2 separate regions of the Homo sapiens genome follow, and region 2 is linked to region 1. Evidence: fine-mapped expression QTL. A gene starts in region 1. The other region holds a variant in brackets. All regions are shown on one strand. Distances are between the middles of the regions. Region 1 holds the start of ALG8 (ALG8 alpha-1,3-glucosyltransferase). Region 2 overlaps TENM4 (teneurin transmembrane protein 4).

The links. PIP is the estimated chance that this variant, and not a neighbour inherited with it, causes the effect. A credible set is the group of variants that fine-mapping cannot tell apart.
Region 2: its variant is the best candidate, but not a certain one, in a credible set for the expression of ALG8 in whole blood (TOPMed, PIP 0.72).

Annotation. Positions count from the first base shown.
Region 1 is chr11:78,136,498-78,141,881 of GRCh38, reverse strand. ALG8 (ALG8 alpha-1,3-glucosyltransferase) reads left to right here and starts at 2,256. Exons shown (of 13, transcript NM_024079.5): 1 at 2,256-2,388. The coding sequence starts at 2,294. It overlaps KCTD21-AS1 (KCTD21 antisense RNA 1), which reads right to left and starts at 2,089. Exons shown (of 3, transcript NR_102281.1): 1 at 1,810-2,089. RefSeq lists enhancers at 813-1,523, 1,684-1,793, 2,404-2,483, 2,564-2,673.
Region 2 is chr11:78,859,003-78,864,386 of GRCh38, reverse strand. TENM4 (teneurin transmembrane protein 4) reads left to right here. Exons shown (of 34, transcript NM_001098816.3): 10 at 1,255-1,425. Among named protein-coding and RNA genes, the nearest start is that of TENM4-AS1, 230 kb to the left of the region's middle. The variant G/A (reference allele first, on the strand shown) is at 2,182.

The DNA.
Region 1 (5,384 bases):
GGCCTTGGAAGTTTTGGTTCTTCTTTCCTCTCCTGTTGCAGATTCACGTTACGGTTTTGGATGGGTGGCAGAAAGTGCATGTCACCTTCGGTGGCACGGTCTGCAGTGGGTGGGCCTCTCTACTGGAAGGTGACCACCTTTAGATACTGAGACAGCAAGTACGAGTGGCCTTCTTTTACCTTCTTTTAACTTATCCTTTTTTGCTGTCTGGTCATCTTCATTGGTCTTCTGCTTCTCGGTGTCAAGATCATCATCATCATCATCTTCAGCTGCCCATTTGACTGTAGCTATTACAGGAAAGTAATCGATTGTAAGGATGGAAGTTGGTTGGAATGATGTGAGGAAGGGGCCAAGGAATGCAGGCAACTTCTAAAAGCTGAAAAAGACAAGAAAAACAATCTCCCTGCAGAGCCTCTGGAAGCAACCAATCCAAATGACACCTTGACTTTACTCCAGTGACTGATTTTAGATTTCTGGTTTACAGAACTGTAAGAGAATAAATTTGTGTTGTTTTAAGCTACTAAGTTTATGGTAATTTCTTACAGCAGAAATAGAAAATTAATGCAAAGTGCCTTTAAAACATCTAAGTAGCTGGGCATGGTGGCGCACAACTGTAATCCCAATACTTTGGGAGGCTGAGGCAGGAAGATCACTTGAGCCCAGGAGTTTGAAACCAGCATGGACAATATAGGGAGATCCCATCTCTACACACACACACACACACGTTGCCACATCCCTGTGGTCCCAGTTACTCAGGAGGCTGAGGTGGGGAGGACTGCTTGAGCCCAGGAGATCGAGGCTGCAGTGAGCTGTGTTTGCACTATTGCCCTCCAGCCTGGGCCACAGAATGAGACCCTGTCTCTCAAAAACAAAACAAAAACATCTACGTGAGGTCAGGTAGCCAACTGGAGACCAGGGTCTGAAAGTGAGAGAAGAGTGCTGAGCTAGAAATCTGTGAATCATATTCACATGGGTGGCAGCTGAAGCTGTGGGAGGGCATAAACTCATATTAGGGAGGTGACACTGTCACCTACTTGCTGTGCATCTTTCAGCAAGATAATTAACTGATCTGACACATTATTGAGCATTTATTCTGTCCTGGAATCATATCAAGCAATTTACATGCATTCTCATTTAATCCTCACAACCAGTTTATGAGGCTGAAACTTTTTTTTTTTTAGACCAAAAGCATCTTGGATAAACAGGCCTGAGGCTTGCCCAGGCTGAAGTGCAATGGCGCGATCTCAGCTCACTGCAACCTCCGCCTCCCACGTTCACGCGATTCTCTAGCTTCAGCCTCCCGAGTAGGTGGAATTACAAGCGCCCGCCACCATGCACGGCTAATTTTTTTTTAATTTTTAGTAGAGACAGGGTTTCACCATATTGGCCAGGCTGATCTCAAACTCCTGAACTCAGGTGATTCGCCCACCTCGGCCTCCCAGTGTTGGGATTACAGGCGTGAGCCACCGCGTCCGGCCAGAAACCATTTTTATCTCCTATTTTCAAAAATAAATAAATAAATAAAAATTTTAAAAAAAGAAACTGAGGTTTAGAGTTTAGTTTGTCCAAGATCATACAGTAAAATAATGAGACAAGCCTAATTAAATTGCATGTGCCTCAGTCATTACGCAATCTGCGAGTTTGTTGGGCCTACTGAATCAGAATCCGAATTATTTTAACATGAACCGTAGGCTATTTGTACACTAAGCGTTAGGACTAGCCTCTACCCTGCTTCCAGAATGGGTTCCGCTCAAGCAGGAGGTGAGCCAAGAGCCTCGCTCAGAGTTCTAAAAACACAATGTTTCTCACCTCTGTATCTTTGCACATGCCATTCTCTAGCTGGATTTAATACTCCGGTGCAAGCGTCCAGGTTGGGAGCCCCCGCAGTTCTCTGAGGTACTTTTATCTACTGTAACTCTAGGGCAACAATCCTGGCTTCTCCACTAGTGCGTGAACGTCTCTAGCGTTAAGTTTTTTTCTCACCTAAGTATCCCCAATACTACACAGTGATGACCCAGCGCAAACGACCACTCTTTCAACGCAAGCATGAACTAGCTGATAAAACTTAAAAGTGGCTACAAACGCCTGCGCAGGAGCCCTTCCGGCCCGGGGTGAGACGCGGGTCTAAAGAAAAGGTGGGCGGGAGGTTTAAATAGCTGACTGCAGTCCCCGGACTGGCTGCGCCGCTCGCCGCATGCGCGCAGCTAGCGGGCACGGCTTCAGAGGGCTTTCTCCGCATGCGCGGGATCCCGGATGTGGATCAAGTTGGTGGGAAGCGTGCGGTGCCGCAGCAATGGCGGCGCTCACAATTGCCACGGGTACTGGCAATTGGTTTTCGGCTTTGGCGCTCGGGGTGACTCTTCTCAAATGCCTTCTCATCCCCACATAGTAAGGGACTCGCACGGCCAGGGGCTGGGCGGGGAGGCCCCGCGGTCGGTCAGGGCGGGAGAGAAAGGTGTGGATATCCCTGGGTATGAAGAGAAAACTTTAGGTCGTGTTTGTCGCTATCCTGCCTTTGCTAAGCTTTCTGTTTCGCCAGTTGTTACTTGACTTAGCCCCAGCTGGCTAGGTTCAGACCTGGCGCTGTCTGATTTGGAACAAATCACTTTAACGTTTCTGAACCTCAGGGTCCTCATCCTTAATAGGCAGTTAAGAACCTCTGCCTCCAACAGCCATTCAGCCAGTATTATCAGATGCCTGAGGTGCCAGGTACCGTTCTAACTCCCGGGAGATGCGGTGGTGAGCAAGACATTGCTGGTCCTTGCCCTCGAAGTTGGTGGGTGGAGCTAGACAAACAGGAACTTTTCAGATTGTGATAAAGGAAATAGAGGGTTACTAAGTGGCTGTGCGCTATTCCTTTAGAAGGTGATGTTTGAGTTGAAATTCAAAAAATGAAAAAGAATAAGTGATGTGGAAAGCAGTTCAGGCATAGGAAAGAGTAAGTTCAAAGGCCCTGTGGCAGGAAAGAAGTCAGAGCATTCTAGGAACAGAAAGTGCCCCTTGTGGCTGCAGAGCATTGAGGGAGAGGAGTGGCACAGCATGGGGTGCACTGGGGACAGATAACACAGGGTTTCGAAGACCACAGTTAGACTGCTGTGTAAAAAATGGATGTAGGGCCAAGACTGAAAGCGTGGAAACCAAGAAGCAACCATGAAATGGTGGTGTGTATACAGTAGGTACTCAGTATTTATTAATATTGGCTTCCGCCTTCCCTTCATCCTTCCTCTTTTTTCTTTTTCTCCCTCATCCCTTTTCTCCTTTCCCTCCCACTTCCTAGTTTAGGGTTTGTTTTATTGGTATCCTTTGATTCAGGCTCTTGGTGATCTCTTGTTGAATATGGGAGAGTCATATGTATAGAATGTAAGTCCATACTGATGCGTATATGTAATCATGTAAGTGGAATGTATATGTAGATTCAGTAAAATGATTAACTGTAGGTCTGTGCATAAGATTATTTCTTGCTTTAGTTGCCTCAGGCTAGAAATGTATCCTCAGAGTTGTTTTTTTTGTTTGTTATTTTTTTTTTTTTTGAGACAGTCTCGTCCCACTCTGTCACCCAGGCTGGAGTACAGTGGCACGATCTCAGCTTACTGCAACCTCTGCCTCCCGGGTTCAAACGATTCTCCTGCCTCAGCCTCCGGAGTAGCTGGGATTACAGGCTTGCACCACCGCGCCAGGCTAATTTTTGTATTTTTAGTAGAGATGGGGTTTCACCATGATGGCGGAGGGCTGATCTCAAATCTCCTGACCTCAAGTGATCCACCTGCCTCGGCCTCCCATAATGTTGGGATTACAGGCATGAGCCACCGTGCCTGGCCAGAGTTGTTATTTTGAATACTGCTCTTGGTCCAGGTTAAGAATGTATATAGCGCTCACTTTGGCAGCACATGTACAGGAATACCTCATTTTTTGTACTTTGCTTTATTGCACTTCACAGATACTGCATTTTCATTTTTTTTACAAATTGAAGGCTGCGGTAACTCTCCATTGAGCAACTCTATCAATGCCATTTTTCTAACATCATGTGCTCATTTTGTGTCTGTGTTACATTTTGGTAAATCTTGAAATATTTCACACTTTTTCATTGCTATTATATTTGTTATGATCTGTAATCAGTGATCTTTGATACTACTATTCTGATTGCTTTGGGGCAACACTATGGTGAACTTAATAAATGCTGTGTGTTCTGACTGCTCTATCAACCAGCTGTTCCATCATCTCTCTCCCTCTCCTCAGGCCTTGCTGTTGACTGAGATACAATAATAAAGTTAGGCCAATTAATAGCCCTACAGTGGCATCTAAGTGTTCAAGTGAGAGGAAGAGTCACATATCTCTGACTTTAAATCAAAAGCTAGAAATGATTGAGCTTGATGAGGAAGGCATCCTGAAAGCCAAGACGGGCTGAAAGCTAGGCCCATTGTGCCAAACAGCCAAGTTGTGAGTGCAGAGGAAAAGTTCTTGAAGGAAACTAAAAGTGCTACTCCAGTGAATACACAAGTGATAAGAAAGTGAAACAACCTTGATGATATGGAGAATGTTTTAGTGGTCTGGATAGATCAAACCAGCCATAACATTCCCTTAAGCCAAAACCTTATCCAGAGCAAGGCCCTAAGTCTTCAATTCTTTGAAGCCTAAGAGAGGTGAGGAAGTTGCAGAAGAAAATTTGGAAGCTAGCAGAGGTTCTTTTAAGAAAAGAAGCCATCGGCCGGACGCGGTGGCTCATGCCTGTGATCCCAGCACTTCGGTAGGCCAAGACGGGCGGATCACCTGAGGACCAACATGGAGAAATCTCGTCTCTACTAAAAATACAAAATTAGCTGGGCGTGGTGGAGCATGCCTGTGATCCCAGGTACTTGGGAGGCTGAGGCAGGAGAATCACTTGAACCCGGGAGGTGGAGGTTGCAGTGAGCTGAGATCGCGCTATTGCACTCCAGCCTGGGCAACAAGAGTGAAACTCTGTCTCAAAAAAAAAAAAAGGAAGAAAAGAAGCCATCTCCATAATAAAGTACAAGGTGAAGCAGCAAGTGCTGATGTAGAAGCTGCAGTAAGTTTTCTAGAAGATCTAGCTAAGCTCACTGATGAAGGTGGCTACACTAAACAATAGGTTTTCAAGGTAGAAGAAACAGACTTACATTGGAAGATGCCATCTATGACATCTAGTTGAGCCATTTCTCACTTACTATTCTAAAAATCCAATGGCCCTTAAGACTTATGCTAAATCTACTCTGCCTGTGATCTATAAATGGAACAACAAAGCCCTGGATGACAGCACATCTATTTACAGCATGGTTTACTGAATAAGCCCACTGTTGAGACCTACTGCTCAGAAACATTTTTTTTTTCTAGAGGCAGGGTCTCGCTCTATCTCCCAGGGTGAAGTACAG
Region 2 (5,384 bases), 720 kb before region 1:
TCTCGGCTCACTGCAAGCTCCGCCTCCCAGGTTCACTTCATTCTCCTGCCTCAGCCTCCCAAGTAGCTGGGACTACAGGCGCCCGCCACTACGCCCGGCTAATTTTTTGTATGGAAAAATATCTTTAGAACAGAAATATATGCACATGGCACAAAATGAAAATGTGCAAAAGGTGTACAGTGAAAAGCAAGTTTCCCTCCTATCCCCCGATCCATAGTATCTCTATCCTTCACAGGACACAGCTACTGTTACCAGTCTTTCATATTCTACCAGAAATATTTTATACATTTCCAGGAATTTTTAAACCCAAAGGTAGTATATCAAATACACTTCTGCATGTTATACTTATCTTTCCACAAAAATACATAAAGAACCTCTTTATTCTTGTTAATGGTTGCATCCAATTTTGTTGTGTGGATATTACTTCATTTTCTTGCCCCTTATCAATGGACTGGTTTCTAATATTTTGCTATAACAAATTATACTGAAGTGAATAACCTTGTATGTACATCATTTAGTACATGTATAAGTATATCTGGAGGAGGAATTTCTAGAATTGGAAGCTTTATGTCCCAGGATAAAGGGTATGTGTATTTTAATGTTGCTAGCTTTTATCAAATTGCCCTCCATAGATTTTGTACATTATATTCTCACACCAGTAAAATATGGGAATGCTTGCTTTCCATTCTCTGCCAATATAGTGTATTTTCAACCTTTTTTATCTTTGCCAAACCATATGTGAAAAATAGTATTTCAGAGTCTAACTTACATTTCTTTTGCTATGAATAATGCCAAGAGTCTTTTCATATGATTATGGGCTATTTGTATTTCTTATTCAGTAAACTGTTCATATCCAATGCCTATTTTCCTACTGAGTTGTTGGACTTTGGTTATTATTTGTACAAGTTATTTTTGCGTTAAGGAAATTAACATTGTCATACCAATTGCAGTTTTTCCCCCAGATTGTTATTTATCTTTCGAAGCAAAGACCAAGACCTCCTGAGACTCCCCGATCCTGCCTACTCCCAGTTCCACCAGACTGTGAGCCCCTTGAGGGCAGGGTCTGAACCTTGATCCTCTCTGTCCCCAGTCTCCTTTGCAGGGCTGGCACTACAAGAGCTTCCTTTTGGGGCTACTTGTTGAACTGAACTGAATGCCTGTGTTCCCCCACCCTGCCCACCTTTCCCTTATGGCTTGGGAGTCCCGTTTCTGCCTCCAGCAGAAAAAGATGACTTTTCTCATTGCTCACCACAGCCATGCACCTGTTTGGCCTAAACTGGCACCTGCAGCCGATGGAGGGGCAGATGTATGAGATCACGGAGGACACAGCCAGCAGTTGGCCTGTGCCAACCGACGTCTCCCTATACCCCTCAGGGGGCACTGGCTTAGAGACCCCTGACAGGAAAGGCAAAGGAACCACAGAAGGTAGGGTTGCTGCGTTGTCCGTGTTGTGAGTCCTCTGTGTCTGCCTCTGAGCTGAAGAGCCCTCCATAACGTGCGTGCATCATGTGCCTGGCTCACAGCTCCATGCTCTGGCGCTCCCTCCATCCTTCCACACTCCACGCCAGCTGTCAAGCTGCCAGTCCACCTGTGTCTTCATCGCAGTTCCTTGTCACTGAGAGTTCGTGGGAGGCTCAGGAAGGGCTCATGGTGCTCAGCAGAATCCCATCCCATGCCTTGAGGGAAGCATTAGGGGCTTCACACTGCTGGGGTGGCCATCTTTGTGTGGGGTGAGAGGAGCTCTTCTGGGCAAACCTCATGGGACAGTTGGGCATCTGTGGGAGTGGGGTATGGGGAGGCAGGTAGATGGGGTGTTGTAATGGAAAGATTCTTGGACTCTTGTGGTTTAATAGAAACACCAGTTTAAGTGGTCTGTCATTTACTAAACGTGTGACCTTGAGCAAGTCACTTATTTGCCTGAGCTTCAGTTTCCGCATCCGCAATAATAACAATAATCATTAGTGTTCGTACAGCATGTTTGTTTTAAAACTTTTTGCCAAAAGCATTTCACATTTAATTCCCACAGAGATCCTGTAAGATAATTATTTTATAATTATTCTAGATATAGAAACTAGAATTGGTGCAAAGGATTGCACTAATTAAGTGATTTGGCCAGAGTCACACAGCCAGTAAATGGTAGAGTCTGGGATATGAGCCCAGGTCTGTGACTCCAGGGCTCTC[G/A]CTATCTCCATAAGCTTCCCCACCTGACTTACCCCAAGGTTACAAGGCCCTGAAGGAGATGTGGGTGTGAAATTCTATTGTACAATGAGACATGGATATTTCCTATCAATGATGGAAATGGTGGTGGCATTGGGTTTGCTATTCCTGAGTGGGATATCCATAGGCCCATGTTCTCAATGTCTTAGAAATATTTCTAACATGCCATGGACATTGTCAGCCAAGAGTGGCACAGACTCACAAAAATTGGCACCCAGAAAGATGTCTGAGCTAATAACCCAGCCTGGTTGTCATTCTGGGCAGTGTGGCGTTCCCTTCTCCTGCACCTGCTATGGCCTGCTTTCTCTCCCTGTGACCCTTCAGTCAGCACATTGGCAATAGCTGCCTCTAACTTTCACTGCTTACATCTTCTTTTCTCTCAGTTGACTTTTGGGTCATAGCATCTGAGCCTCTCTGCCCTTGCAATAATTTGCCTTCCAGCCACCAGTTTGTTTAACAGGGTGGCATATACTTGGTCAGAGTATCTACTCATGACCTCTGAAATGAGGATCCTGAGGGCCAAAGTCAACTCTTGGCTTCTGGTCATCTTTAAGGGAAGTGGGAACTGAGATCATTTCCACACAGAACCCCTGCCCACTATTTTGAGGGACAAAGCCAGTCCTCTCATTTGCAAAGATTTTAAGTCTTAAAATGCTAAATAGTGCACACTTTCTTTGCCTCTTAATAGGATATGGAGGGAGGAATCATGAATGGGACCTGGGAAGAGCTCTGGGTTAGAAGTCAGAAGCCCTGAGTTCAATTCCAGCTGCAGCCACTGACCTGTGGTATCACCTTAAGCAAATCCCTTGAACACACTTTCTGGGAGTCCTTTTCTCCTCTTCAAAAGGAGAATATTGAGCTAGATTCTCTCTAAGGTGCATTCTGATTTGTAAGTTCTACATATGAAAATAGCAATAGAATCATGTAAGTAACCAGATGGCTCTTCAGAATGTCATGTTGGCCCTGTCCATGGTCCTGCCTTTTGGCTCGTGGTGCCCATGTCAGCTTCTAGCGTCAGATGCCATGGGTTAATACCATAATGTGAAGACTGTCTTTAGATCAGCATGTACAAATGTAGATTTAAAATATGCTTAACCCTCAAGGAACTGGTAAAGGATCTCATTTGGCAAAACGTATTTTCTTCCCTCTATGATCTCTATCAGACGTTCTTTAAACAGGAGTCGGATCTATCTGAAATCTCTCACTCTAATGAAATTAGTCTGTGGGTTGTTTAGGTTTTGTTTTGTTTTTGTAAGGAACAGGAGGTGCAGATAAGAGATAAAATAAAATTGCACCAGATTATTGGTTTATTTTAATTGGAGTATTTTTGCTTAAAGGGATTATCTGTCATTACTGATGCAAATGGAAATCCTGTTTGCAAATGCCTTCAATGCAGCACTGTGCTGCAAAGTGGTCAGCATCAGAAGCAATCACTGTGACAAAAAAAATACGTCAGACTGGAAACCAGAGGACAAAGCTTCCTATAGTTTATGTGAGACCACAATGTTCTTCCTTTATTTTGCCCTGGTCAAACCAATGTCTACTCAGTGTATGTTTTTCATTGTGATGTTAAAAATGCATTCCCCTAGATATATCTCAATGCAGAAAGTCTTTAACTCTGATGTGAGCACATATTTCTCATCCCTTCTGAGGATATTCAAGAAGACAGCTGATTCCAGAATTAAGATTAGAGTCTCTGCTTCACAATGATGGAGAAAGCAATGTGGTGTGATAGAAAGGGGTAAATGGGCCTTGGAGCCAGACAGTATAGGATGTTAATCCTGACCCTGCTTTATATTGGCTCTGTTAACTTATGGCACTTACTGCATCTCCCTTGACCTTCCTCATCTGTAGAACAAGGATAACTATATCTATCCATTCAAAGCCTAATGTTGAAGTGGCACTCAACAAATATTTGTTCTCTTCTTCTTATCCACTCAAATCCCATGCCATTCCATATTAGTTATTAAAATCCCAGAAGTCCAGACTAATTAACATTCTCTCCCTGCCACAGATTCTGCAAAGGTTTGAGGTATTTTTGAATATGTTAAAGAATATATATTTCTTATTTATATGAATTAAATGTATGATAATCCAAGAATTGTAAATGTTCATCATGTCCTTGAGAATAACATGAAACTGCAGTTCATACTATATTTTCCAAATGGCTGTAACCATTCCAGGGTTGTGATGGGACAGAAACCAAATACAGCAGCTTTTCGAACTAAAGCCACAAGAACTTGTGTTACACATTAATGGGGAAGGGAAAAAAACATTGAATAAACAGGCATTTCTGATGGTTGAATTGGTGGGCTTGGGATAGCATTTTCTTCTTTCTGCAGTGAAATAAAAATTGCCCATTAGTTTGAACCATGCAAATTGCTGTGCGCAGGCTCAGCTGGGCTCTCCAAAACAGAACAGCTTATTTTGATAACCAAATAAATTTCAACCAGTTGCTAAGGAAACTAAAGAATTCTTCATGCAAGTTATTGCATTGAAAAGAACCAAAAAGGTGGAGGGAGAGAAAGAACATTAGTTGATTAGGAATTTAGAATCTATATAGGTAGATCTCAGTTCAAGAAAGTAAAGGCTATGATTGAGAAGTGCATGAAATTTCAGTTCTTCCAAATCTTGCTTTTTGACTGAGCTATCCATTTTAGCAATTCATTAAGAAATTTCTTTTATAGACATGATTGCATATTTGCACAGCATTGCTATGGGAAGCCTGAATCTATCTAGCTTTACAAAGCAAAGGACTATTATCAGTAAAATCTGCCTTGTGAGGCCTAATCTTGCTGTAGGGGAGCCCTAATTGTGACCTAAGCTTTTTGCAGTGTTTGTTAAGTCTCTGGGGGCACCCAGTGATTGTAGAGTGTCCTTCTCATGAATGTTTTGAGACCCTGACTGTTGCCCTTTAACTTTTGGACCTGTTTGTAGGTTCCTAATTCATACAAATGATCTTTTTGTACCCTAGGATGCCAGGAAGTTTTTTAATGGGCCTTGGATCTACCTGGTCAAGCTCTGATATTTAGCCTGCTGGGGCTGTGAATCCTATCGGACTCTTGATCTTTAAGAAGGTCAATGCACCCCACCACCACTGAGAATGTCTTTGTAGTGTTTTAATTAATCATTCATCAATTTGATCCCTTCAGAAGCCATATTTTAAT